Homo sapiens: one gene and its partners. The protein of the gene in region 6 purifies or fractionates together with the protein of the main gene of each other region. This does not show direct contact. Each region holds a gene or a part of one and is shown on either strand. Other genes may lie near its edges. The genes, in order: CNOT7, SOX10, DROSHA, CHD1L, AKAP8L, EPAS1 and CUL2.

Region 1 (3,500 bases), on a different chromosome or scaffold from region 6:
AATGGTGATGGAATAAAAATAAGCAGATCAAGGGAAGTGTGCTATCATAAAATAACTGTAGCTTCAACATCTTGAGTACCAGTTTCCTGGCAGATAGTAAACATCCAATCACAAGGGATTTTTCCTGAAGGGTGTAAAGCTGGTTTGAAAATTCTTCAGTCACAGAGCAGCCTACACATGCCAATTAGAAACTGACAGACACTAGATGTGCTTGGAAGATTAAACACTACGTACAGAAACAGCAGTTACTAAGCTCCTCAGTAGTTTCTTGTCTTTTTTAAGTTTCGCTGAATCGACAGTTTGCACAACGTGCTATATTCTGTGGGTCAAAACCAAGTAAATACTGTGTAAAGTTGGCAGATTTTTCCAGCTAAGATCAAGAAAAAACAAATTTTCTGATAAAACAGGTTTAGAGTCAGAAACACTCTCTAAAGTGCAAAACTGATGGTCCACGATCTCAAATAGCTAAAACTCCTGCAGAATGGAAGGGAGAGACGTGAAACAGGGAAATAAATTACAGTCAGTGCTAGTTAATTTAGGAAAAGGGAAAAATAAACCAAACTCAAGTCGGTAAAGTTTATCAAAATATTCAATGATGTAGCTTTCCCCACTCTCTGTCACACACGCTTGCTAACAAGTATATTAAATTAAGGCCAAATTTAACCTGAATGCGTTTTTTTTTTTCTTTTTATTAAGATCTGAGATAGGAACGGTCATACTTAGTACTGAAAGGCAGACAATAAAATGGGCCATGAAAGGGGGGGGAAAGGTACTGTCTATTGTTCGAGGGATTCAACCAGAGATAAAACCTATATACAAGCATGTGTGTAGCTCGAAATAAAAATAAAAGGACTATTTCATGTCATGACTGCTTGTTGGCTTCCTCTTCATATGCATTCCCTGTGCCATTCTGTACATAGGATGAACCAGAACCAAGGCCATACAAATGACCACAATATTTGGCATCATCAATATGATCTTCAAAGAACATCTAAAAAGGAATTTTGAAGAAAAAAAAAAGATAATTTTAACCAAAAGGAACCACTTGTAATTTATATTTCAGCAATGTAAGTACTGACTGTTCACTGACAATAATGATGGCTCTTTTCTATGGTGTTCCTTTGAGGCTACGCATTTCAGTTCAATGAGTAAGACTAATGTCCTCAAAAGTACAGAGCTCAGAAACCAAAGAAAGAGACTACAAAAAAAGTGTATAAATGCATGTCTTTTCCATTTAGACCATTTTTATAAGAATTTTTCATCATGGAAAAATAACTATTCCATTAATTTAACAATACTCAAGAATGAAGAAAGCCAATGATGGTGGGGGAAAAAAAGTTTAGGTTCATAAACTGTCTTAAATCTGTATGCAAGGCTGAGCTGGCTATAAATGATCAAACCATAAAGTCATGGACAGTAAAATCCAAACATTCACACTCTATTACTGTCCTTGAAGAAGCCAAGAAAAATAAAGATAAATTAGTGCCAGAAATCCACCTTTAGTTAAATAAACCATTAAGACATTTTTAAAATGCAAAGCTAAAAAATCCAAAAGGTTGTTTCAATTATCTAATGAAACAATTGGAAGGAGTCCAAAACAAAATATTTACGTGTCATGAATGGATAGTCCAAATCACTTCTGAATCAACAACACTACTTAGCAAAACAGCTTTAATGCTTTCTATTATCAATACATTGCTACAAAAAGTTTTAAATTCTCAGTCTCAATTTAATGTCTAAGAGAAAATATACTCAAATCCACAGCGAATTTTTCCAAAAGGGAAAACTTATAGTCAAGAAAAACCTCACTTGTTTTTTGCACAACCAATTTTCCTGTTTACCTATAGCTAGGTGTATCTGTGCACATCACTTAATTACTTAGGAGTAGATAATGGGTTCATTTAGTTTCATTCTTCCATCCCTAACACTTTATACTCAAGGAACTGATCTCTGCCTTTTGCCGTTTAAGGAGGGTTTTCCTAATATGGTTTCTGATGCAACTACTACGTTGGATTTATTTGATCCCTTCGGAATTCAACCCCCCTTTTAAGACTCAATGCAGTAAAAGAGCCTGAGTTCTTCTCTATAAAATCTTCAAAGCACTGAAGAATGACATGAGCAAATAATATATTTATCACCAGTTTAAACCTTAAAAGGGGTCATGCTAGAATAAACCTAATATAAAGATTCCTTGCCTTGTAGGAGGAGCACCAATGGGAGTCAGAAAAGAACTCTGGAGTTCTCCCACTAGTAATGTGTTTAATCATGGAAGTTATTAGCCTGTTTTCTCACCTGAGAAATAATATGGTTGGACCTACATGACTTCTCAGGTAGTTTATGTTTTAAAATTGTTGGTTCTATGATGAACATGTTCTCCCAGTTCCTTCTGAACTACATTTCAAGATGACTTATTTTTGAATACTTTTAAGTGTGGTGGATGTGACTCATATGGTATCTCTAATTATATCTTTACTTAGTAGGTACTTGTTGCCCAAAATCTTTGGCCACAAGATTTTTAATGTTCTCAACCTAACAACCAACTGAGAAAAAGGCAGTGATGTCTTCATACTTCTCTCATTTTGAAAAAGGCCATTCCTGTGAGCAATGAATCAGATCCTGCCTGATGTTGTGGTCCTATCCGTTCCAGCTCTAACTGTTCTGCCACCTCCTGTAATCCACCCTAGAAAAAATAAAAAATTGCTTGTCAAGAAGAAAAATCTTACAAGGCCTAAATTCACAAATTATAAACTTAGACGCTGACCAAAATAAAAATAAACTTTAGTATGTAAAGGTGAATCTTATAAAGATTGGGGGGAAGAAACAGAGAATGTGAATTACTAATGTATTTGTTGAATGCGGAAAAAGTATCATTTAATAGAAAACAAGATCCTAATTGGGAAAATGTATTTTCATCATGTTTTAGGGCATATGACAGGTAAATACTCTCCTAGATATGGGAAGGAAGCAGACCACATATAGGGTAATATTTATCAAGTACACTCATAGTCTATCAATCCAGTAATAATTATAAAACTGAAAAGCTAGTATAACACCATTTTTTTCATATTTTCTTAAACTTCCCACCATCCATTTGTAGTTTTCACTTAATTTTTACAAAACAAAGCCATTATGAATAATCATTAAGAGTATGCTAAATGCTTCACTATGGTTTTCTTAGTTAAGACGAGTATATGCACACAACTCCTTAGAGTGGTCTGCTATAATCCACCTATGTTAATACTCCTAAGATTAAAAAAGAAAGATGAGAGTGGAAAGAGTGGAAAGAAAGAAAGAGAAAGACAGTAACAGAAGGAAAGAAAGTGGGAGGACAGGCAAGGAGAGTAAAGGGAGGGGAGAATAAGTAGAGCGTGAAGGAAAGAAACACCAACAACAAAACAAAAATTCTTCTCTAACTTGTTAAGGCCTCCACCGGCAAAATGGCCCTTCTGTGCATCACAGCTTGAAACAAGGCTTTGCACAGCAGTTGCTTCTGCGCTAAA
Region 2 (4,250 bases), on a different chromosome or scaffold from region 6:
GCGCCGGGGGTGGCGTCGAGGAAAACTGGGGGGAGATTGTCCAAGGCCAGCAAGCGAGAGAAAGAGAAAACCCTTATCAAACTCCTAATTCACTGGGCTCCGAGGCCCCAGACACACTGGCCCGATTGTCTGGCTGGTTGTGTGTGTGAGCATGTGTGTGTGTGTGTGTGTGTGTGTGTGTGTGTGTTCCAGTGTCTGCTCCCCCCACCCCCAACATGCCTCTGCCTCGTGTGACTACCTCATTGTGTCCCATTTCCCACCCCCTACACCCCTTTGGACTTTCCCAAGCATGAGGCCTTGCCTCCCCAGACCCTTTGCAGCCCACTCCAGACAGGACCCCTTGGGGTGGTCTTGGGGCTTTGCCCTGCTGTTGAGGAGCTCAGAACGTCACATGGTTGCCAATGCGACCCCAGCTCCATTACATAACCCACATACACCCCACCTCGGCCTCAACACCCCGGCGGGGCTGCCCTCAGTTAAGAGAACAGCACTGCGACCTTTGGAGGAGAGGCCAAGGAAAGAGAGAGAAAAAGGTGTCAACGGAGGATGGGCAGGAAAGAAAAGGGGAGGGAGGGAGAGGTGGGCAGAGGAGGGAAGAGGCAGGGCAAGTCCCCACCCCTTGTTGGGGTGGGGGAGTAGAGGACTTCGTGACAATCAGGACTAGGACTCCCCTACCCTCTCCCAAGACAGGGTGAGCCCAGTGTGGAAGGAGCTGGGTCCCAGTAGGTAGCAACCCAAAATGCCTCTAAGACCTACTGAGAGAGGGCCCCCAACCTGTCCCACCTTGGCCTCCTGGCAGCTTTAGTCTTGTGTTTCCACCTTGAACCAGACCAGAACGCGCGTGTGCTGGGTGTCTGCAGAGAAGGGACCAGGGGTCAAGCTGGGGCTCTGCACTTCTCAGAGGGATCCCTGAGAAGTCTCTCTTACTGTGCAGGATGGGGCAGAAAGGGCTGCCTGGGAAAAGGTAGGAGGCAGGGTGAGGAGCTGGGCATCAGTGCCTGGCACACACTAGGCACTCAACAGGATTTCGCAGACGAAGCAGCTAGGGCCAGCCACCCTCACGGGCCCCCAGGACCCTCACCGCCTTCACGTCTCTCCCTAGTCCCCTGCCAAGTGCCCATCCTGCCACCTGAGGCAGACGTTAGGAGTCCTGGTTGGGCCCAATTTTCTTCCATCCAACAGGTTCTGACCCTCCAGCCTACATCTCTTCCTTCCTCGGCCTAACCTCCCCTCCACCTCCCAGACTAAGCCCAAGATAAGCCTCAGCAAGATGGGCCTGGGCAGTAGGGCAGGGAGCTGGGTGGGGGGGCCTGGGCTCCGGGTGGAGGAGCCCTGAGTGTTGGGGATGAAGGAAAGCCTGGAGGCTCCACCTTCTGCCCTTCCCTCCCTCCTCTCCCCTCCCCCCTCTCCCCCTCCTTCCTTCCCCAGCCCTCCGCAGCGGCTCAGGCTCAGTCGCTCAGTCAGTCTCGGGCTGTCCGGCCAGGGTGGTTGGTGGTAAGGATTCAGGCTCCGTCCTAACGAGGCCGTGGCCTGAGGCTCAGGGCCCCCCGCCCCTCCCTCCCAGCCCACCAGCGTCACCTCCCAGCCCCGAGCTGGACCGCACACCTTGGGACACGGTTTTCCACTTCCTAAGGACGAGCCCCAGACTGGAGGAGAGGTCCGAGGAGGTGAGTGCGCAGCCTGCTCCTCCCTGGCCCGCCCAGGCCTGGGACCCTGCTGTGAGGTGGAGAGAGGCGACACCCCGCCCTTGCCCCCCACCTGGCTCTCCTCTAAACCCCGTTGGGGCAGGCTGAGGGAAGAAGGAAAGGTGAGAGAAAAGGTGGGAAATTCCAGGGGCCGGGATTAGAGCAAAATAAAGGCTCCGTTTTTTTCTTCCTTATCATCAACAAACCTCCACCCAAAAAAGGAGGCTAAAAAAAAAGCCACCCACACCAAGAGACGGTTGGGACCAGGTGGTGGGAAGACACAGAGGCGGGACGCACCCACCTAGAGTCTGGCATGTGCGTGGGCCCCAGGGGCCAGATGGGTTTAGCTGGAGCAGGAAGGGCCGCCACCTCGGGGCTGTGCCCACGTCCTGTCTCGGGCCGCCCTCGGGGCTGCGCGCGCGGCCGCTCCATCGCGCCCTCCTTCCATCCAGGTGGGCGTTGGACTCTTTGCGAGGACCCCGGCGGCTGGCCCGGGGGAGGCGGCCGAGGCGGCGGCGGCGGCGGCCGGGGGCGACATGGCGGAGGAGCAGGACCTATCGGAGGTGGAGCTGAGCCCCGTGGGCTCGGAGGAGCCCCGCTGCCTGTCCCCGGGGAGCGCGCCCTCGCTAGGGCCCGACGGCGGCGGCGGCGGATCGGGCCTGCGAGCCAGCCCGGGGCCAGGCGAGCTGGGCAAGGTCAAGAAGGAGCAGCAGGACGGCGAGGCGGACGATGACAAGTTCCCCGTGTGCATCCGCGAGGCCGTCAGCCAGGTGCTCAGCGGCTACGACTGGACGCTGGTGCCCATGCCCGTGCGCGTCAACGGCGCCAGCAAAAGCAAGCCGCACGTCAAGCGGCCCATGAACGCCTTCATGGTGTGGGCTCAGGCAGCGCGCAGGAAGCTCGCGGACCAGTACCCGCACCTGCACAACGCTGAGCTCAGCAAGACGCTGGGCAAGCTCTGGAGGTGAGCACCCGACCGCCCCCCGGGCTCGGGCCCTCTAGCTTCGGGTGGATTCAGGGTAGCCGAGGCGGCCCGGCCTCCTGCACCTCAGAGCGGGACTGTCTGGCAGTCCTCCTTGGATAGGGCTGGAAGACCAGGTGTGGGGGCCGCGCCCGCCCTTCCATCACAAGGACCCTGGAACTCGGAACTCCAGCGGCCTAGGCCGGGTCTCCCTACGGGGCGGCGGGCAGGAAGGCGCCCCCTCGTGGTTGGAATTTTGCGGGTGGCAGACCGTGGGGCCTGGGGCTTTGGAGGGAGGGAAGGAGGCCTTCACTAACTCCTGCCCACAGATACGCACACTATGCCACCAGCTGCTGTGGTCAGGAGGATACGAGGGAAACGCTTGGAAAGAACCAAAGGGTTGGCTGGAGATTCAGGGAAACTGAGGCAGTCAGATGGAGAACTCAGGGGAGGTTTAAAGAAAACGGAATTCAGATGAGAGTCTTTGGAAGAGTGAGGGATGAAGAACTGCGGGACAAATCTGCTGCTGCGGGACCTCATCCTATCCTAGGGCTCTTCCCTGGGACTTTCTGACGCCACCCTCCTTTGAGTTGGGGGCTTCTTCATCCTCCTAGGGAGAGGACACACAGTAAGGGGCTCCCCCTCCTGCCCTGCCCCAGAGTCACCAAGCTGATCTCTTTCCTCCCTCTCCCAGTTCGGCGCCATCTTCCCTGCCAGGGCCCCACCCCAACGTTGAGCAACCTCTTCCCCACTGCCCCAGAGCTGGAGCTGAGCACTCTGGCCAGAAGGAAACCTTGGCCTCCTTCCTGCCCAGGGGCCCTCAGAGTCCCAGGTTCCCTGGGACCAGCCCACACCTCTAGGAAAAACATCCCCCGCAGGGAGCAATTATCCCACCCTCGACTCAGGTCTGGGGTTCAGCCAGGCCTCCTGGGGATGTGTGGAACAAGACAGTCCCCCACTCCCACCCGGGAGTGCCAGAGCAGCTCTGAAAGAGACCAGGGACTCCAGGAGATGTGAGCCGGTAGCAGTCACCTGATTCTCGCTAGACTGACCAAGAGACAGGCCCAGAAAGGCAAAGGAATCACAAAGGTCACATAGAAGTTGGTAGCAGAGCCAGGGCCAGAACCCAGGACTCCCATACTCTCTGTCCAGAGGACTTCCCCTGACCCTGGTGACAGTGGTGGATCACCTACACTTTGAGGAGTGGTCAGGAGGTTGGGGGGAAGCAAGAAGATGAGAACAAGAGTGAGGAGCATCTGGGTTCCAGAAAATTAGGGCTTTGTCAGAGGAGCCCGGCTCTCTTCCGCTGCCCTCCCCCTTGCCAGCCACAGTTGGGTAGAGATTGGGTCTAGAGGCTTAGAGTGGTAGAAGGTGCAGGAGGATCTCCAAGAGACCAAAAGATTCACATCCCGCCCCCTGGCCTGTTCTTGCCATGTGTTTGCTGAAGACCTGGTGCCCCTTCCCCTGCCCCTTCTCAGCCCTCAGTGCCCTGCTCACCCAGGGCAGGCCCAGGGCTCAGCGACCAGCCCGCTGTGTGGACCCAGACAGCCCAGTTCTGCCCAAGAGCAGAGGTCACAGCTAGCTCCTCCACCCAAGGTCCATCC
Region 3 (3,500 bases), on a different chromosome or scaffold from region 6:
TACCAGAAGTATAGTGTGATACAACAATCACGAAATAAACCTGAAGCACATCATCGTTAATCACCAAGGAATGGAGTTTGATACAGACCTCCCTCTGTGCCAGCTTCTGTTTGTCAGTTTGTTTGACTTTGGGACTATTTGCTAGGAGGTGGCGAAGTTTCACATAACTCTTCCACAGTTTTTGGTACCTAAGGAAAAGGACAGGCAAACATCTCAGGTAAAGAGGAGGTAAACCTAAAATGCAACAAAACCAGTTATTTTAAGAGGCCTCTTCAAATCATACATTACATTCTTTTGATTATTCTTAATGGCAGAAAGCCATCATTCTAAGGAAGGCTATGACTTTGAGGCTGAGAGTCAGGATGGACAAGAGTCAACTGGAACCTGGTGATTAAGTTGATTATTGCTTATTTCAGTTGGAAATGAGGTGTGACTATATGAATGAATCTCTGGAAAGAATTCCAAAGACACAAAAACACCTCAACCAAAGGAATCATCCTGTTTCTCACTGTTACCTCTTGAAAATAACAGATTTTATTTAAATATACACTTTCTGATATTTGTTGAAAGAAAGACCCCTTCCTTAGGGAGACTGTCAGTTGCTGAACTACTTATACCAAATATAAGTTGAAGAGTATTAGAATAGAGAACCCCATTTGTGCCAAAACCCAAGCTACATAGCTGTATCCATTTGTCCACTGGAGAGGATAAAAGACTAATGGTGTATACCAATTTGTATTTACCATGACAATATAAGCATATTTGTTGCAGCCAAATAAGTGATAACCTAGACCAGTCTAAAGGATACTGTCAAAGCGTCCTGGAAATGAAGCGAATATGCAGTCCTTTATCAATTCACAGTCCTGCCATCTGAGAGTCCACGAGAGCCTCATCACATTCTACTAACATTTTTCTGACAAGAAGGGATTTTCCAAAGATTTTCTGTCACATTAAAACTGTTCCTTTCTTGGCCTTAGCTGGGCCTCTCCTTTTTTGAAAACTTTTTTTTTTTTTTTTAAGAGAATGGAGGAAAGAAAGAAGTACTTACACAGTGCCTGGTTCACTGCTTCATACTTTTATCCAAAGGGGGAAAAAAAAGAACAAAACCCTTTAGCCTCTTCTAATATATGTCAGCCAGAACTGTATTTATGAATTGAAAATCTCCCATGCCCTTTTCTCCCACTATGAATCCTTTTTAAAAAAAAAAAAAAAATAAGTCAGGAAGCTGTTTGTGTGTTTAGCAAGGTAGGAAATCCAAACAGTCCCGAAGAATCTAATGGTACTATCTCCATTCCCACACATCCTAAATCTTCTCCCAGAAAACACTAACATGCCAGTTGGAAAAATCAAAACGTGGAAAGTTACATCAATCCTAAGAGTCAGAAGTCACGGCTCCTACTTCCAACACAACCTTGACTTTGCATGTGATCTTGAACTCTTAAGATGCCCCCAAAAAGAGAACTCTGCATAAATTCGGCAGTGCTAGGAACCAATATGTGCTACTTTCCTCTAGAGGGCACTGAAAAAATAAAAAATAATAATTATTATTATAAGGATGAATAAAGAAAAAGTTCCTTAAAGTTTAAAAACATACAAGGACTTATGTTGACCAAGTTTGCCAAAAATATTCTATTGAATAATAGTTTCTTGCACTCAAATATGTACAGAAAATAATTCTTCAGGAGCTACCACAATTGTTTCATTTGGGTAATCTAAATTGGAAGTATGGCTCATTTCAGGTCTTAATTTTTAAAAAGGAAACATCCACTAAAGGGTATTTCTCTGCTAATTTGGCTGTTAGTAGAAGGTGAAATTGGCTAAGACAAACACTGAGAAATATCTTACTGTGGGTCTCCTGCATAACTCAACTGTGCAGGGCGTATCCCAAAGTGGACGATAATCGGAAAAGTAATCACATCGGGGTTGAACTGTTCACGATCCAGTTGATCGATACGGACAGAGCTTGGTTTCTAGAGAGAAAAATCAAAGCCATTTATTCCCATAAGAAGTCTTTATGTATTGACTTTAACCTAAGTAGGGAAGGAATAAATCGGACTTTTTTCCAGGAAAGCCTTGTCCCCAAAGGGAAAAGGTCATTTAAAACCCTTTAATTACAGCAGCTATACTATCTAAAAACTATAATGTCATCCTTGTAAATGAGCCTATGCCATTTGGCATAATGAACAATGATTTTGTCCTTTTTTGCAGTCCACATAGAAACCTTTAAAAATTAAACTTTTAAAAGGACACCTAGTCAGATATAACTTTTCCTTAACCTCTCTGAAGGCACAGGGGAAGGATTCCACATCACAGGCAGAGCCTCTTCTGCTTTAATTTCACATTTCAGAATGCACAGATGCCTCTATTTAAGTTTTTTCCCTCACTTGTTCTCAGTGGATCTTATGTATTCCTTTAATTCTACATCTTTAAGTTAGAAAGTATAGTGGTGCAAAGGCCAAATAGTTAAGCTTCTTTTATTATGTCCATGTAGGACATTTGTGTATTTTAACAGAGAGCCTCATATTTTTTTCTTCATGTCTAATAAAGGAAGAAGTGAATGGCTCATTCCTTCTGGATCATTTGTGAAATGGCTTTCATCTTGAAAGCTTAAATTTATGAAAAGATGGTAAAATCACAGAGAACAGGTTTCAGCAACCTCCTTCCTTATAATCACCTCTCAGGACAGTCTCAATTAGAGATTCAGTTTTCACTAGCACACTGTAGAGTCTGCGGCTCAGTTGCTTTGGAGGCTAAGGCTGTTAAAACTGATTCACACAGAGGCCAATAATCTTCATTCTGTCCCACAACAATGCCCAACAATTAGAGTCTGGTTGGCTGCCTGGTTTCCCTGGGACAGAGGAATTTCAATGCTAAAACCAGGAAATCTCTCAGCAACTGGGACAAACTGGTCACTCTACCTACAACTGTGATACCAGCCAGCCATCTGACAAATATTCAATGAGGTGACAAAAGGGATAAACTTGGGTGAATTCACCCACATTACTTAAAACACTCAAACCTTTGGGAGGCCAAGGCGGGTGGATCACGAGGTCAGGAGTTCGAGACCAGCCTGGCCAACATAGTGAAACCCCATCTCTACTAAAAATACAAAAATTAGCCGGGCGTGGTGGCGCACACCTGTAGTCCCAGCTACTCAGGGGGCTGAGGCAGGAGAATCACTTGAACCCGGGAGGCGGAGGTTGTAGTGAGCTGAGATCGCACCACTGTGCTCCAGCCTGGGCAACAGAGTGAGACTCTGTCTCAAAAAACAAAACAAAACAAAAAAAAAACCCCTCAAACTTTTTAAGTGTCATTTAACAAACAAAATGTCACTAGCTTCTTGAAAAGTTGGTCTCTGCTCTCAAAATTTGAAAATGGAAAATATTTTGTTCACATGTAATCCATTATAAAATTATTTAAATGCCCATCAACAGTAGCAACGTGCTATTTAAGGTCAAAGAATTACTTTCATTATTTTGTACAACAAAACAGCAGGATAC
Region 4 (3,500 bases), on a different chromosome or scaffold from region 6:
CATCTCCTACATCTCATGGATTACAGAAATTAAATGGAAAAAGCACATGACAAAGTCCGCACTGTTGATGAACGCAAAATAAATGCTTAATGTTAGCTGCAATTTTAAAAACAAGTAATTCTACTGTTTAGAAGAGGAATCGCTATGTGCAAAGCATCATACCAAGGATGGTAGGCTTTACTAATAAAGAAGAAGATGTTTGCAACCAAGGGAGAAAAGGTACAAATTCAAAGCCTTAAGATTGATACTATCATAAACATTAATACTATGATTTTGGTTCACAGTTCAGCTACAAGGGAAGAGCCACACAAATTTCCAGTTAGTTTGGGTAACGTTCTTTTATCAAGCAAGTCTTAAACAGTGTGCCCAAATGACAATAGGGTAAGGGAGAAAAAAGATGCCCCAGAGAGCAGCATCCAAAACTTTCCATGGGGACGTGAGCTCTAGCTTGGGGTGGTTGTGCCATTTGCTCTGCTCTAACCTCCAACTTACTTCCTTCCTCTTGATCTCTGCTCCCTCCTTCTGCTGCAGGCAAGGCATCAGAGACCCACTGGCCATCTTTTGTTTCTCCCAGGATGGACTCCAGGTCTATTTCATCCATGGTGCTCCCCTCAGAGGCCAGCAGTTTATCCAAACCAAATTTGAGTATCTCACTCAACTTGAATAGAGGAAACAAAAAAGTCCAGCAAATTCTCATGAAAAGAAACATTAGGATATCAGTGATTGGCTAAGTGGATTAACGACACCAGGCACAGTCCTTCTCTAATGAACAGGCAGCCTTTCTGCTCTCCCCATCATAGATAGTAACAGCCAGGGCCATTTAATAGTTGGATGATGGGTAAGCAGAGAGGTGATAAATGATTATCAGAGGTATTGACTTTGACAATTCTGCATAAAAACAAAACAAAAAAAATGTATAAGCCTCCAATTTTTTTGAAGAATAATAGTAACTTCCTGCATTTTCTACAGCACCTCTCACTGACTTTTTCATAAGCATTCCCAGCAGCCACTTGAGATCAGAGACCCTGTTAGCTACTTTCCAACCTCTCCACTGCCAGACTCCTTAGAAAGGGAAGGCTACACTAGGAACTTTACCTCTATCATGAACTGACTCCTTTTCTTTGGCAATTTGTTTTCCTAACACAGTGGTCTATCGAAACCACCTTGGCAAAGATCAGTAACAACTTCTGACCACCAGACCCGAAGGCCTTTTCTCAGTTTGAATTTTTCTGGATGTTCCTCTGGCATTGCACTATCCTGCTTCTCTTCTCTCGTCCCTCTCTGGAGTACTCTCAGCCTATTCCCTATGGCTGTAGGAACCATGCAGAAAGCACAGATAATTTTTCCTGGCTTTCACTTGCTACTTCCAACTTTGCACCTCCGTAAGCACTAATTCTGAGATCCTGACCCAAGGTGGATTCAAACCTTGGGCCCTTGTTCTCATCTTGCCCTTTTAGACTGGGTTATCTCCAGATCGTCTATTTTGTGAGTAACTTGGAAATGTTAAGGTATTCTGTAACAGCTTGAAGAAACAATAGACAGCTCACTTAAGCATGAATGTACCTAGATATATTATATTTACCCTCCATACACATAACCAGGATGACTGGCTTTGGCAGCTGGTACCAAAAATAGTAGGAAGCCAACTATTTATGATAAGAATTGGTCCATACTGGGACCCTCCCTTTCACCCCCTTGTACTTATGCTCACCTCCTGGCTCTCCCTTGTTATTGCTCACTTGCAATGTGTCTTAGTCATTAAGAAAATTACATGTGTTTTTATGAGAAGCTGTATATTACAGTAATTAAGGGCATGTGCTCGGAGGTTAGAGAGTGCTTGGATTGGAATCCTAAATCTGAATAACCTTGGGCAAATTACTTAAGATGGGGATAAAGATAGTGTCTATCTCATCCTGCTGTTATTCTTATTTACTGAAACAACTGGAAAAGAGCACCTCAGACAACACTCAGCACACAGTATCCAATAAGTGTTCACTACACCTGCATCTGCCTGCCTGTTTCTACTGTGTCCTCCCTGCAGGATAAAAAACCTGTTTCCTTCTTTCAGGACTTCAGAACTCCATACCTACTGCTTAGATTTACCAAATCAGAACCACATCTTTTACTTTTGGTTTCTTGGTATTTAAAAAAAAAAAAATACCCCCAGGCGCAGTGGCTCATGCCTGTAATCCCAGCACTTTAGGAGGCCGAGGTGGACGGATCACAAGGTCAGGAGATCAAGACCAGTCTGGCCAACATGGTGAAACCCCGTCTCTACTAAAAATGCAAAAATTAGCTAGGCGTGGTGGTGCGCGCCTGTAGTCCCAGCTACTCAGGAGGCTGAGGCAGGAGAATTGCTTGAACCCGGGAGGCAGAGGTTGCAGTGAGCTGAGATCGCGCCACTGCACTCCAGCCTGGCAACAGAACGAGACTCTGTCTCAAAAAAAAAAAAAAAAAAAAACCCAAAAAACAAAAACAAACAAAAATCCCCTGCTTTCTTTTTAGACAAGGGCTCTGGGTTATCACCTTTGCTTTTGGTAACCACAAATAACTCATAGCATCTGCATGGGGAAGAGATAAATCAGACATTAGAGTCAGAAAGTAACTTTCCGATAACCATGAGCTGGGCAAGAAGTCCAACAGAGTCGCTCTCAGCCAGCAGTCCATGTTCCCACTCGTTTGTGGCCCCATGGGGTGGAGGTATGTCTACATCTTTCACAGTGATGTGTCCAGCAGCCCACATCACAAGATACCCCTCATTGGACCCCTGGCGCTCCCTCCACTGGGAGAGTGCAAACAACCTATGACATCCTTCCTCCTCTAACAAGAGAATGCGGGCCTTGTGAGGCTCTGTCATTTACCCCTTCACTATGCCCAGCAGTGACCTTCTCTCTCTTAAGGTTCTATGGATAATTTTTCTGTGGAAAACTGCATTTAAGGGTATCTACAGCGTACCTCTACCTCTCTCTCAAGCTTTCATCTCACATTTATAATTGTCTCTTAGTGTGAAAACAAAATGTACAGCCTGCCCTAGCACCATTATGGTTAATTAAGCATGCATGTGACACAGTCAGCAACACAAGGAAAGTCAGAAAAAGAAAAAAGCCACACCTACCCCCTAAGATAAACAAAGAACAAACCCAGTGTTACTCTTTCTAGTTCTAGTCCCAAAATTAATAAAACCTTGAGCCTTTCCTGTAATTACTAACTCCCTAACAAAAACAACAGGATCCCTGTCTTTTGCAACACTGATATGTAAAGATATGCACTGGCCTTTGCAGATACGGTAACCATGTAAGAAAACTGCTGTTTTTTCAGACTAATTACAAACTTAGTAACTCTGCTTCTAATATTGTGTCACTTTTTCTCTCTTAAACACTTATGTTTTTTGATGGACTAGTCCTTTCCAATCCTAGTCCATCTTGCAAACTTTTACAAATAAAATTCTTTCCTTTTGTCTGAGTCTGCCTCTAACAATAGTTTGTTTATATTGTATTTTT
Region 5 (3,500 bases), on a different chromosome or scaffold from region 6:
TTTTCCCCTCCCCTCCCCGCCCCCTCTCCCAGACAAGAGTCTTGCTCTGTTGCCCAGGCTGGAATGCAGTGGCGCGATCTTGGCTTGCTGCAACCTCCACCTCTCAGGTTCAAGCAATTCTCCTGCCTCAGCCTCCCGAGTAGCTGGGATTACAGGCATGTGCTACCACGCCCGGCTAATTTTTGTATTGTTAGTAGAGACGGGGTTTCACCATGTTGGCCAGGCTGGTCTCGAACTCTTGATCTTATGAGCCACCCACCTCAGCCTCACAAGGTGCTGGGATTACAGGCGTCAGCCACTATGCCAGGCCCAAGAGGGATGGTTTTTGAGGTGGTTGTTTGAGATTTATTCTGAACCCAGGGAGTCTGTTCTTAGCTATTTCACTGGTCCTTGTCCTCTTTGGTAACCTAGTTAGCCTATGGGTTAGCTAATATCACTGTCAAATCTACCGGTCCTTCTTTTTTATGGCTGTGTGGTGGGGGAAAAAAAAAAGGACAAAGCTATCAGTGTTTAACTCCAATAAATATTCAGAAAGAAAAAAAAAAGCTATCAATGTCCTTTTAATTTTTTTCCTCCCTAGTCTCCATTGTTTTTGAGAGAGGCCCTAGTCTTGCACTTCCCAACACTCTTGCCAGTGAAGTCAGTCAGTTCCTTTGAGATTGGGAGTTTACTGATTTAAGGCCGTGCTCTCACTGTGGGCAGAATCTCTGAGCCAAGGCTCTGGGGATGGAGACAATGGAGTACCTCTCTCTGAGTGACTCTGCCACTTTAGGAGAGACATGGGAGGAGGTACAGTAGGCTGTAGCCTCCGGTCTTGGTTTGCCTTTCCTGGCATGGGACCTCTGCTTTATGAACAAGCCATGGGTATGTGAGCCCTTATATTCTTAGTGTGCCATGCCCAGGGTCAAGCCTCCATTCCACGTGCGTGTGGCTGGGTAGAAGATAGGAACCGTTCTCTCTCAGCTATGCTTGTCTAGAACTTAGCCTCATCAGCAGGTAGCTGGGGGCGGGATGAGAGATACTGACATCCGGCTGGGTACAGTGGCTCACGCCTGTAATCCCAGCACTTTGGGAGGCCAAGGTGGGCAGATCACCTGAGGTCAGGAGTTCAAGACCAGCCTGGACAACATCGTGAAACCCCATCTTTACTAAAAATACAAAAATTAGCCGGGCTTGGTGGCGGGCACTTGTAATCCCAGCTACTCGGAAGGCTGAGGCAGGAGAATTGTTTGAACCCGGGAAGTAGAGGTTGCAGTGAGCCGATATCACGCCATTGCACTCCAGCCTGGGCAACCAAGAGTGAAACTCCAACTCAGAAAAATAGATGCTGACATTCTGTTCCTCCTGGGAAGATATCATACCCCTTAACTGAGATGATCTGGGTAGATGCGGGCAGACCTGTCTTCTTGGCTGTACTGTCTGGAGTGGAGTTTCCATCACACTAAGCTGGGGGAGGCAGGGATGCAATAGGTTGTGTTTCAGACATCACAACTCTTCATGGAACTGAGTTTTAGTAGCTTTTCCTCATTAAATCTTTCTCATAGGGCTGTATGTCCTTAGGAACATTTTCAGAGACTTTAAATGGTTGTTTTTTAATACTTTTCATCAGTTTCACTAGGGAGTGTTCCAGGGAACGCCTCAGACTGCTATGCTAGAGTCTGTCCTCTCAATATTTAGGAAGCTTCTTAAACCTTAATTCCAAAATTCTGATAAAGATGATACCAAAATGAAACTGTAGATTAGTTTACTATTATTAAAGATATGAAAGTGGGCTGGATTGGCCGGGCGCGGTGGCTCATGCCTGTAATCCCAGCACTTTGGGAGGCCGAGGCAGGCGGATCACGAGGTCAGGAGATCAAGACCATCCTGGCTAACACGGTGAAACCCCATCTCTACTAAAAATACAAAAAATTAGCCGGGCGTAGTGACGGGCGCCTGTAGTCCCAGCTACTCGAGAGGCTGAGGCAGGAGAATGGTGTGAACCCAGGAGGCGGAGGTTGCAGTGAGCCGAGATCGCGCCACTGCACTCCAGCCTGGGCAACAGAGTGAGACTCCTCAAAAAAAAAAAAAGAAAAAAAAGAAAGAAAGTTGGCTGGATATAGTGGCTTATACCTGTAATCCCAGCACTTGGGGAGACTGAGGTGGGAGGATCATTTGAGCCCAGGAGTTCAAGACCAGCCTGGGCAATATAGTGAGACACTGTGTCTATAAAATTAAAAATAAAAAAATTAGCCAGGTACTGGGGCCTGTGGTCCCAGCTACTTGGGAGGCTGAGGTGGGAGGATCACCTGAGCCCAGGAGGTTGAGGCTGCAATGAGCTGTGATCGTGCCACTGCATTCCAGCCGGGGCAACAGAGCAAGACTCTGTCTCAAAAAAATAAATAAAATGAAGTGCTAAATAAAATATTAGTAACTATCAATCTAGTAGTGATCCCTATGTATGATACATTATAAGTAAGGTTTGTTTCTGGAATGGAGGGATGGTTCCCTAAGAAATCTAGCAACAGTTGCCGGGCGCGGTGGCTCATGCCTGTAATCCCAGCACTTTGGGAGGCCGAGGTGGGTGGATCACGAGGTCAGGAGATCGAGACCATCCTGGCTAACACGGTGAAACCCCATCTCTACTAAAAATACAAAAAATTAGCCAGACGTGGTGGCGGGCGCCTGTAGTCCCAGCTACTCGGGAGGCTGAGGCAAGAGAATGGCATGAAAGGCCGGGCGCGGTGGCTCACGCCTGTAGTCCCAGCACTTTGGGAGGCCGAGGCGGGCGGATCACGAGGTCAGGAGATCGAGACCATCCCGGCTAAAACGGTGAAACCCCGTCTCTACTAAAAACACAAAAAATTAGCCGGGCGTGGTGGTGGGCGCCTGTAGTCCCAGCTACTTGGGAGGCTGAGGCAGGAGAATGGCGTGAACTCGGGAGGCGGAGCTTGCAGTGAGCCGAGATCCCGCCACTGCACTCCAGCCTGGGCAACAGAGCGAGACTCCGTCTCAAAAAAAAAAAAAAAGAGAATGGCATGAACCTGGGAGGCGGAGCTCGCAGTGAGCTGATATCGCGCCACTGCACTCCAGCCTGGGCGACAAAGCGAGACTCCGTCTCAAAAACAAAAACAAAAAATCTAGCAATATTATTGGTATAATGCAAACTCTCTTTATGTGCAAATAATGTGATTATGCTCTTAGAAAAGCTGAATGATCCCAGCAAAATGTTCTTAGAATTAATAGAATTTGGTAAGGGGATGGGATTCAAAATAGCGTACAAAAAGTCGTAGTGTTTCTCTATTCTAGTATTAACCAGTTAGAAATTTAAATGGAAAAAAAACTACTTAAAATAACCACACAATGTATGAAATAGCTAAGAATACAGATTTAAGAAGAAAGACTTGAGGGCCAGGCATGGTGGCTCATGCCTGTAATCCCAGCACTTTGGGGAGGCTGAGGCGGGTGGATTGCCTGAGGTCAGGAGTTTGAGACCAGCCTGGCCAACATAATGAAACCCT
Region 6 (2,791 bases):
TGCTCTGTCTCTGGCCGAGGGGATCTCTGCTCTTCCCAATCACAGTCTACCTGGGAAGACCCTACTCCAGCCCAGCCGCCTCCAAATTGAAGTCCTAATGCCCAGGCTGCCCCTTTCCCTTCGGGACCTCCATCCCAAAGTGCACTATGTGAATATACAGAACAGTGTGGCTCTCAAACGACTTCATGTAATTTTCTGAAAGCAGAGACCATGACTTCTTTCCTTGGGTTCCCCATAGGATACAAAAAATGGCCCCGAGGCACATAGATAGATAGATAGAAAAATACTTGCAGAAATATGGAAGATACAATATGAATTTTCAGACTTAGGCAACTACCAAGTATTTAACACAGTCTTTCCTTCACCAGTCTTATCAGCTCACTTCAGTAGTCTCATAAAGGTCTGTGCTAATGTTCAATTTATATGAACGACTTAATACTTCACTTTACATTGGCATAGCCCATGATAAATCCACAGGAAATAAGAGCCACCAGCAGTGGTAGGATCAGAATACTTTAATAAGATACCAGTGTCAAAATACATTTCCTTATAAAGTTAAGCTCCCATACAGTTATAATGTTGTCAGTAGGAATTCGACAATATAATAACGTTCATGAAATCGTTACGTTGACAGGTAGGGTTAATATGAAGCTTGGAATATTTTTCAGTGTTTTAGTAAAACTGCAAGGGTAAAATGCCCTTAATGCCAGGGCAACACACACAGGAAATCAAATACCAGCATTTACACGTCAGTAACCCTTCAAGTTCTGCCACCCTGTGTGGGGTAATGCCGTGCAGCTAAAATATGATTTACGCAACACCATGACTAAGGAATTTCTCATAGAACTTAAATTTCTTTTGAAAGCTATTTTTTGTTTTTGGCAATAAGTCTATCCGGGCTTACTAAATAGTTGGCCCAATGTGCTTTGTGTGTGTTTTTAGAAACTTCTTCATTGTACCCATTACAGAAAAGTTCCATGTAATTGGTATTGAAAAACCAGAGGTGTCGTCCCTCTTACCCAGGGAGTTGCAAAGTGCTCTGGGAACACTATTTTCAGTGCTTCCTACCTACATGTCACTGACCGACCCAGAGACCTCAGCCAGGGCCTGTGGCTAGGGGCCATCCCTGGAGGCCTTGCGGGGCCATCTGGCTGCCGGCTGAGTGGGGGCTGCAGGGCTGGTCTGGACCAGCTGCTCTCCCGCTGTGCAGCCTCCTCCTCAGTCCAGCTCCACGGGGCTCCAAGGTCGTGAGCTTGGAGGACGTGGACGGGGTCACTATACCATTTTTGACCCCTCATTTGCATGAATTCCCGTCTAAACCATCTCATGGTAGTTCTGGAAATGTCCAAATGTGCCGTGTGAAAGACCATCCGAGTCACATAGCTCAGTGCACTTGAAGGGCTAGCAACAAAACCTTAAGAAAAGTTAGAGCACTTCCCCGCCCCACCCCCCGACCCCACAACGTGCCATCAGACCCTCTTGGCAGCAATAATAATAATACATACATACATAGTACATAGAGAATGTGAGGGGATAGCGCGCAGTGCTCCCGCTGAATGACTCCACTGCTCGGATTGTCACACCTATGGCATATCACAGATGGCAAAAAGCCGACAGAGGGAGGCCTTCCACAGTGTCCGTACAGGCCGTGGGAGCACTGGACAAGTCTGCAGTGTCCACAACACTAAGAAAAATTAACAGCTTCGAAAAGATCTTAAAGTGATTTTGTGAGCAGGATTCCATTTCCGTTTCTAAGTTTTTAGATATTACAAAGTACCCATATATATGATAAACACTTAACCCAGATATAAATTTTCTCCTCTTTTAAAAAACTCAGTTATGTTTTTGAATAATAATAAAAAATCCACCAAATGCGGGGGAAAAACACCAGTTTAGGAAAAGCCACGCTGTGCAACTTTCACAGATAACCACATACGTTGGAGTTGACCCTTCACATTTCTTTTTTTCCAAAATTAGAGCAAAGAGTCAGCTTAAACAAAAAAAAAAAAACCCTGAAATTTACAATATGGTGATTAGTTTAAAAAAGAAACGAGAAGGGCTCTGCGAGGGAGACGCCACAAACCAAGCTTGGAAAGCAAAATCATTTTTGTTTCTCTTTGGCAACAACAATAACGAGGAATCTTTTTAGTAAAATGAAGCTAAAGCTTCTCCCTACAGAAGAACAGACATGCACCAAACTTGTTAGTATGGACAGTTGTGTGTGAGAAGGAGAAGGAGGGAGAGAAACCTATGGATAATATAAATTAGAAGTCATTGAAGGTGGGGAGGAAAAAAATCCTACAAAATTTAAGAACATTTCAGAACAGGTAAAACAATTGTGTACTTTAAAAATAGGGATAATAAAGTGAGCATCTCAGAAAAAGGCCACTGCTTGGTGACCTGGGCAAGTCTGCCAGGTAAGTCCATCTTGTAAATAGTGTGCTGGCGTTAGAAATACCTAGTTGCAAAAACAGACGGAGAGAGTGAAGCTGGTGGGACGGCGTCGGCAGAGGTGCTGCCCAGGTAGAAGGCCTGGCTCAGGTGGCCTGGTCCAGGGCTCTGAGGAGGTCCCCTCCTTGCAGGAGCGTGGAGCTTCCCAGCACGGGCACGTTCACCTCACAGTCATATCTGGTCAGTTCGGGCAGCAGGTAGGACTCAAATGAGGGCCCGAGCAGCCGGCTTGCCATGCCTGAAAGAAGGGTTGGTACCATAACTTAAAGGCCTAAATCGAACATTTGGAAAAGTGTCTACTTCTTTGTGACTGGGGGATACCAATAGAGCAGCCCTAATT
Region 7 (3,500 bases), on a different chromosome or scaffold from region 6:
TTTGGTTTTTATAAATATAAATGTTTTATTTTTAAATGTAGGAAGATATTGATGCAGAATCTTCGTTTTCATTAAATATGAACTTTAGCAGTAAAAGAACAAAATTTAAAATTACTACATCAATGCAGAAAGACACACCACAAGTAAGTGCTTTTAATGTCAAGTTTTTTTTGAGGGGGAAACATTTAAGCATTGGACTTTACAAGTGTTTACATTGAGATTGTGCAAAACTTTGCACAGCAAAATTAATAATGGGATATGTCTTTTCTGGTTTGTTGTTGGCATTTATTAACCTTACAGTCAAACAGAAATCTCTACTTGTATTTTAGTTTTTTCTAAGGAAAAGGGTATGGTTTTGTTGTATTTGCTCTTAAACCATTAGAATGTGTAACTATGCATTCTCTCCGAAAATTCCCACATTGAGAAGTAATAAAATTTCATATTTTTCATTTGTAAAATAAGGGAAAGTTCTCCAGTTCATTTTTTTTTTTTTTTTTGAGACGGAGTCTTGCTCTCTCGCCCAGGCTGGAGTGCAGTGGTGTGATCTCGGCTCACTGCAAGCTCTGCCTCCCGGGTTCACGCCATTCTCCTGCCTCAGCCTCCTGAGTAGCTGGGACTACAGGCGCCCACCACTATGCCTGGCTAATTTTGTTTTTTGTACTTTTAGTATAGACGGGGTTTCACTGTGTTAGCCAGGGTGGTCTCGATCTCCTGACATCGTGATCCGCCCGCCTCAGCCTGCCAAAGTGCTGGGATTACAGGTGTGAACCACCGCGCCTGGCCTACAGCTCATTTCTTTCAAAGAAAATTTGTCAGTAGAAAATGCTTCTTAAACTTTCATATGCAAATGAGCCACCTGGGCATCTTGTTCAAATGCAGATTGTGATCTAGTGGGTGTGGAGTGAGGTACTGACAGGCCAGTGTGAGGAGGGGACTTCTGCTCTTCATTATTTTAACTCAGCAGTGATTGTTGCTTTGGTCTGGGATAGACTGTTTCTATCACTTATGCTTCCTGATTGCCTCCGGTGTGCAGTCCTTGGGCTGATGCAGGATGTGAAGATAATATAAGATGTTAGACCCTCTCCAGAAACTTAATTCCCGATGGGGGGAGACAAATATTAACTGCCATTTACTTTGAAACCTAAAATGGTCAAGATTCCATTTTCCTCCAGGCTAATAAATAATAATTTGCAATATATAGATTGTATTTTGTCTTTGAAACGCTGTGAGGAGATCCTCTTAATGTGGCATGGTCTGCTTCTATGCCTTGCTTCTGTGTTTCTTGAGCTCCGTGGAGATAGGCCCCCTCTCCTGGCTTCTCTGCTTGAGCCACATAAAATGCCACTTCACAGCTCTTCCCTTTGAAGCCTGATCCAGTATGCATTTGGAGCTAATTACTGCAGTTGACACAACTCCATCTAAAAGCGTCATGAAAGATTCTGTAATCACTGATAAGAAAATGATCTTGCAAATTATTGCTGTGTCCTCCTTTATTGCCTCTTTACCTTAACAGTACAGTTTACAATAATGTAAATTTTTTTCTAATCTTTCAACTTTAACCCTAGAAATTGTAGATGTTTTAGCAGTGGTTATGTGATATTGGCACAACATAACTATATAATTTGCTCAATATTGTGGTGCATACCTGTAATCCCAGCTGCTCAGGAGTCTGAGGCATGAGAATCACATGAACCCAGGAGATGGAGGTTGCGGTGAGCTGAGAGCGAGTCACTGAACTCCAGCCAGGACGACAGAGTGAAACCCTGTCTCAAAAAAAAAAAAAAAAAAGTATTTGCACTCACTGATAAAATGAATTGAAAACAAGTTCAGTGACTTAATGTCTTGTTGGGTCTTTTTTCTTTTCTTCTGTAAAACAGGAAATGGAGCAGACTAGAAGTGCAGTTGATGAGGACCGGAAAATGTATCTCCAAGCTGCTATAGTTCGTATCATGAAAGCACGAAAAGTGCTTCGGCACAATGCCCTTATTCAAGAGGTAAAAGGAGGGCAGTCCTCAGGGCTTCTTAGGGTAGAGGGCATTGTCATTGTACAGATTCAGTCTCTTTCTTCTTAAAGAGGATACAGAAATAACCTGATCCTCAGATAGCATAAAGAAATGTTTCATACTTAATCAGAATCGTACTCACTCACAATTTCAGTATTAAATTCAGATTTGCAGGCTGGGCACAGTGGCTCATGCCTGTAATCCTTTTTGTTGTTGTTGTTGAGACAGAGTCTTGCTCTGTCGCCCAGGCTGGAGTACAGTGGCGTGATCTTGGCTCACTGCAACCTCTGCCTCCCAGGTTCAAGTGAGTCTCCTGCCTCAGCCTCCCGAGTAGTTGGGAATACAGGCGTGCACCACCATACTTGGCTAATTTTTGTATTTTTCGTAGAGACAGGGTTTCACCATGTTGGCCAGGCTGGTCTCGAACTCCTGACCTCAGGTGATCCACCTGCCTCGGCCTCCAAAAGTGCTGGGGTTACAGGTGTGAGCCACCATGCCCAGTGGACACCTGTAATCTGAATGTCTTGTTAGGCCAAGACAGGAGGATCACTTGAGTCCAGGAGTTTCAGACCAGCCTGGGCAACACAGGGAGACCCCATCTCACCTAAAAAAAAAAAAAAAAAAAAATTAAAAAATTAAAAAATTAGCCAGTTGTGGCGGCACACTTGTAGTACCAACTACTTGGGAGGCTGAGGCGGGAGGATTGCTTGAGCCCAGGGATTGAGCCTGTGTGACACAGTGAGATGCTATCTCAAATGATAATAATAAATTCATATTTGCTTTGGCTTTATTTTAGAGGTCTAAAACTTGCTGATTCATTGAGTCTTCTGTCCAGTTATTGAAGGAAATTGACCCATCAGATATTCATTCATTCCATAACTATCTGAGCCTACCATGTGATAGACAGCTGGGCTGGTCCCTGGGATATAGCACAGAGCAGCTGAAGATATGGCAGGCTTTTTTGGAGTTCACAGTTTAATGGGGGAAGAAATACACTATTGAAATGATATGCAAATAAATGTAAAATTACATTAGCATGCACTGAAGGAAACGTATACAGTACTATGAGAATGTATTTAAATATCCTGGCCTAGGGGCTGCTGGGGAAAACTTTCTTGAGAAAGTGTTTGAACTAAGAGCTGAGAGTTGAGTTAAATAGAAGCTTGGGGTTGTGTGTGAGTACTTAGGTTAATTAGTTTATTGTTTCACTTAATTATGTATCATTATTAGATTTTGCTGTATCCATTTTCCACATTGTAGTTCCTATTTTCATACTTAATTTGGCCCATTTGTTGAAACCTCAGTACATTTGAGGCACTTTAAACTGATTGGTTAAAAGTCATTACTTAATAGCTGAAGAACTGGCAGTAGTTTGACTTCCACATCTCTTCCACAGGTGATTAGCCAGTCAAGAGCTAGGTTTAATCCCAGTATCAGCATGATTAAGAAGTGTATTGAAGTTCTGATAGACAAACAATACATAGAACGCAGCCAGGC

The links.
Region 1: the proteins of EPAS1 (region 6) and CNOT7 purify together in Homo sapiens (affinity purification with mass spectrometry, with the first as the bait; one large-scale study listed by BioGRID). This does not show direct contact.
Region 2: the proteins of EPAS1 (region 6) and SOX10 purify together in Homo sapiens (affinity purification with western blotting; one study listed by BioGRID). This does not show direct contact.
Region 3: the proteins of EPAS1 (region 6) and DROSHA purify together in Homo sapiens (co-immunoprecipitation; one study listed by IntAct). This does not show direct contact.
Region 4: the proteins of EPAS1 (region 6) and CHD1L purify together in Homo sapiens (affinity purification with western blotting; one study listed by BioGRID). This does not show direct contact.
Region 5: the proteins of EPAS1 (region 6) and AKAP8L purify together in Homo sapiens (affinity purification with mass spectrometry, with the first as the bait; one large-scale study listed by BioGRID). This does not show direct contact.
Region 7: the proteins of EPAS1 (region 6) and CUL2 purify together in Homo sapiens (affinity purification with western blotting; 2 studies listed by BioGRID and IntAct, with this or other methods). This does not show direct contact.

Annotation. Positions count from the first base shown.
Region 1 is NC_000008.11:17,229,858-17,233,357, forward strand, and holds part of CNOT7 (CCR4-NOT transcription complex subunit 7), read right to left. Parts: intron 2,681-3,500; coding exon 2,570-2,680; coding exon of another isoform or gene 2,564-2,569; exon of another isoform or gene 1,655-2,563; intron 992-1,654; coding exon 863-991; 3' UTR 320-862; coding exon of another isoform or gene 278-319; 3' UTR 1-277. UniProt on the Homo sapiens protein: Has 3'-5' poly(A) exoribonuclease activity for synthetic poly(A) RNA substrate. Its function seems to be partially redundant with that of CNOT8.
Region 2 is NC_000022.11:37,981,756-37,986,005, reverse strand, and holds the start of SOX10 (transcription factor SOX-10), read left to right. Parts: upstream 1-1,450; 5' UTR 1,451-1,667; intron 1,668-2,137; 5' UTR 2,138-2,221; coding exon 2,222-2,649; intron 2,650-4,250. UniProt on the Homo sapiens protein: Transcription factor that plays a central role in developing and mature glia.
Region 3 is NC_000005.10:31,466,094-31,469,593, forward strand, and holds part of DROSHA (ribonuclease 3), read right to left. Parts: intron 1,971-3,500; coding exon 1,846-1,970; intron 189-1,845; coding exon 89-188; intron 1-88. UniProt on the Homo sapiens protein: Ribonuclease III double-stranded (ds) RNA-specific endoribonuclease that is involved in the initial step of microRNA (miRNA) biogenesis.
Region 4 is NC_000001.11:147,277,184-147,280,683, reverse strand, and holds part of CHD1L (chromodomain-helicase-DNA-binding protein 1-like), read right to left. Parts: intron 659-3,500; coding exon 493-658; intron 1-492. UniProt on the Homo sapiens protein: ATP-dependent chromatin remodeler that mediates chromatin-remodeling following DNA damage.
Region 5 is NC_000019.10:15,384,489-15,387,988, reverse strand, and holds part of AKAP8L (A-kinase anchor protein 8-like), read left to right. Parts: intron 1-3,500. UniProt on the Homo sapiens protein: Could play a role in constitutive transport element (CTE)-mediated gene expression by association with DHX9. Increases CTE-dependent nuclear unspliced mRNA export.
Region 6 is NC_000002.12:46,384,407-46,387,197, reverse strand, and holds the end of EPAS1 (endothelial PAS domain-containing protein 1), read right to left. Parts: intron 2,690-2,791; coding exon 2,538-2,689; 3' UTR 501-2,537; downstream 1-500.
Region 7 is NC_000010.11:35,010,342-35,013,841, reverse strand, and holds part of CUL2 (cullin-2), read left to right. Parts: intron 1-41; coding exon 42-143; intron 144-1,877; coding exon 1,878-1,994; intron 1,995-3,399; coding exon 3,400-3,500.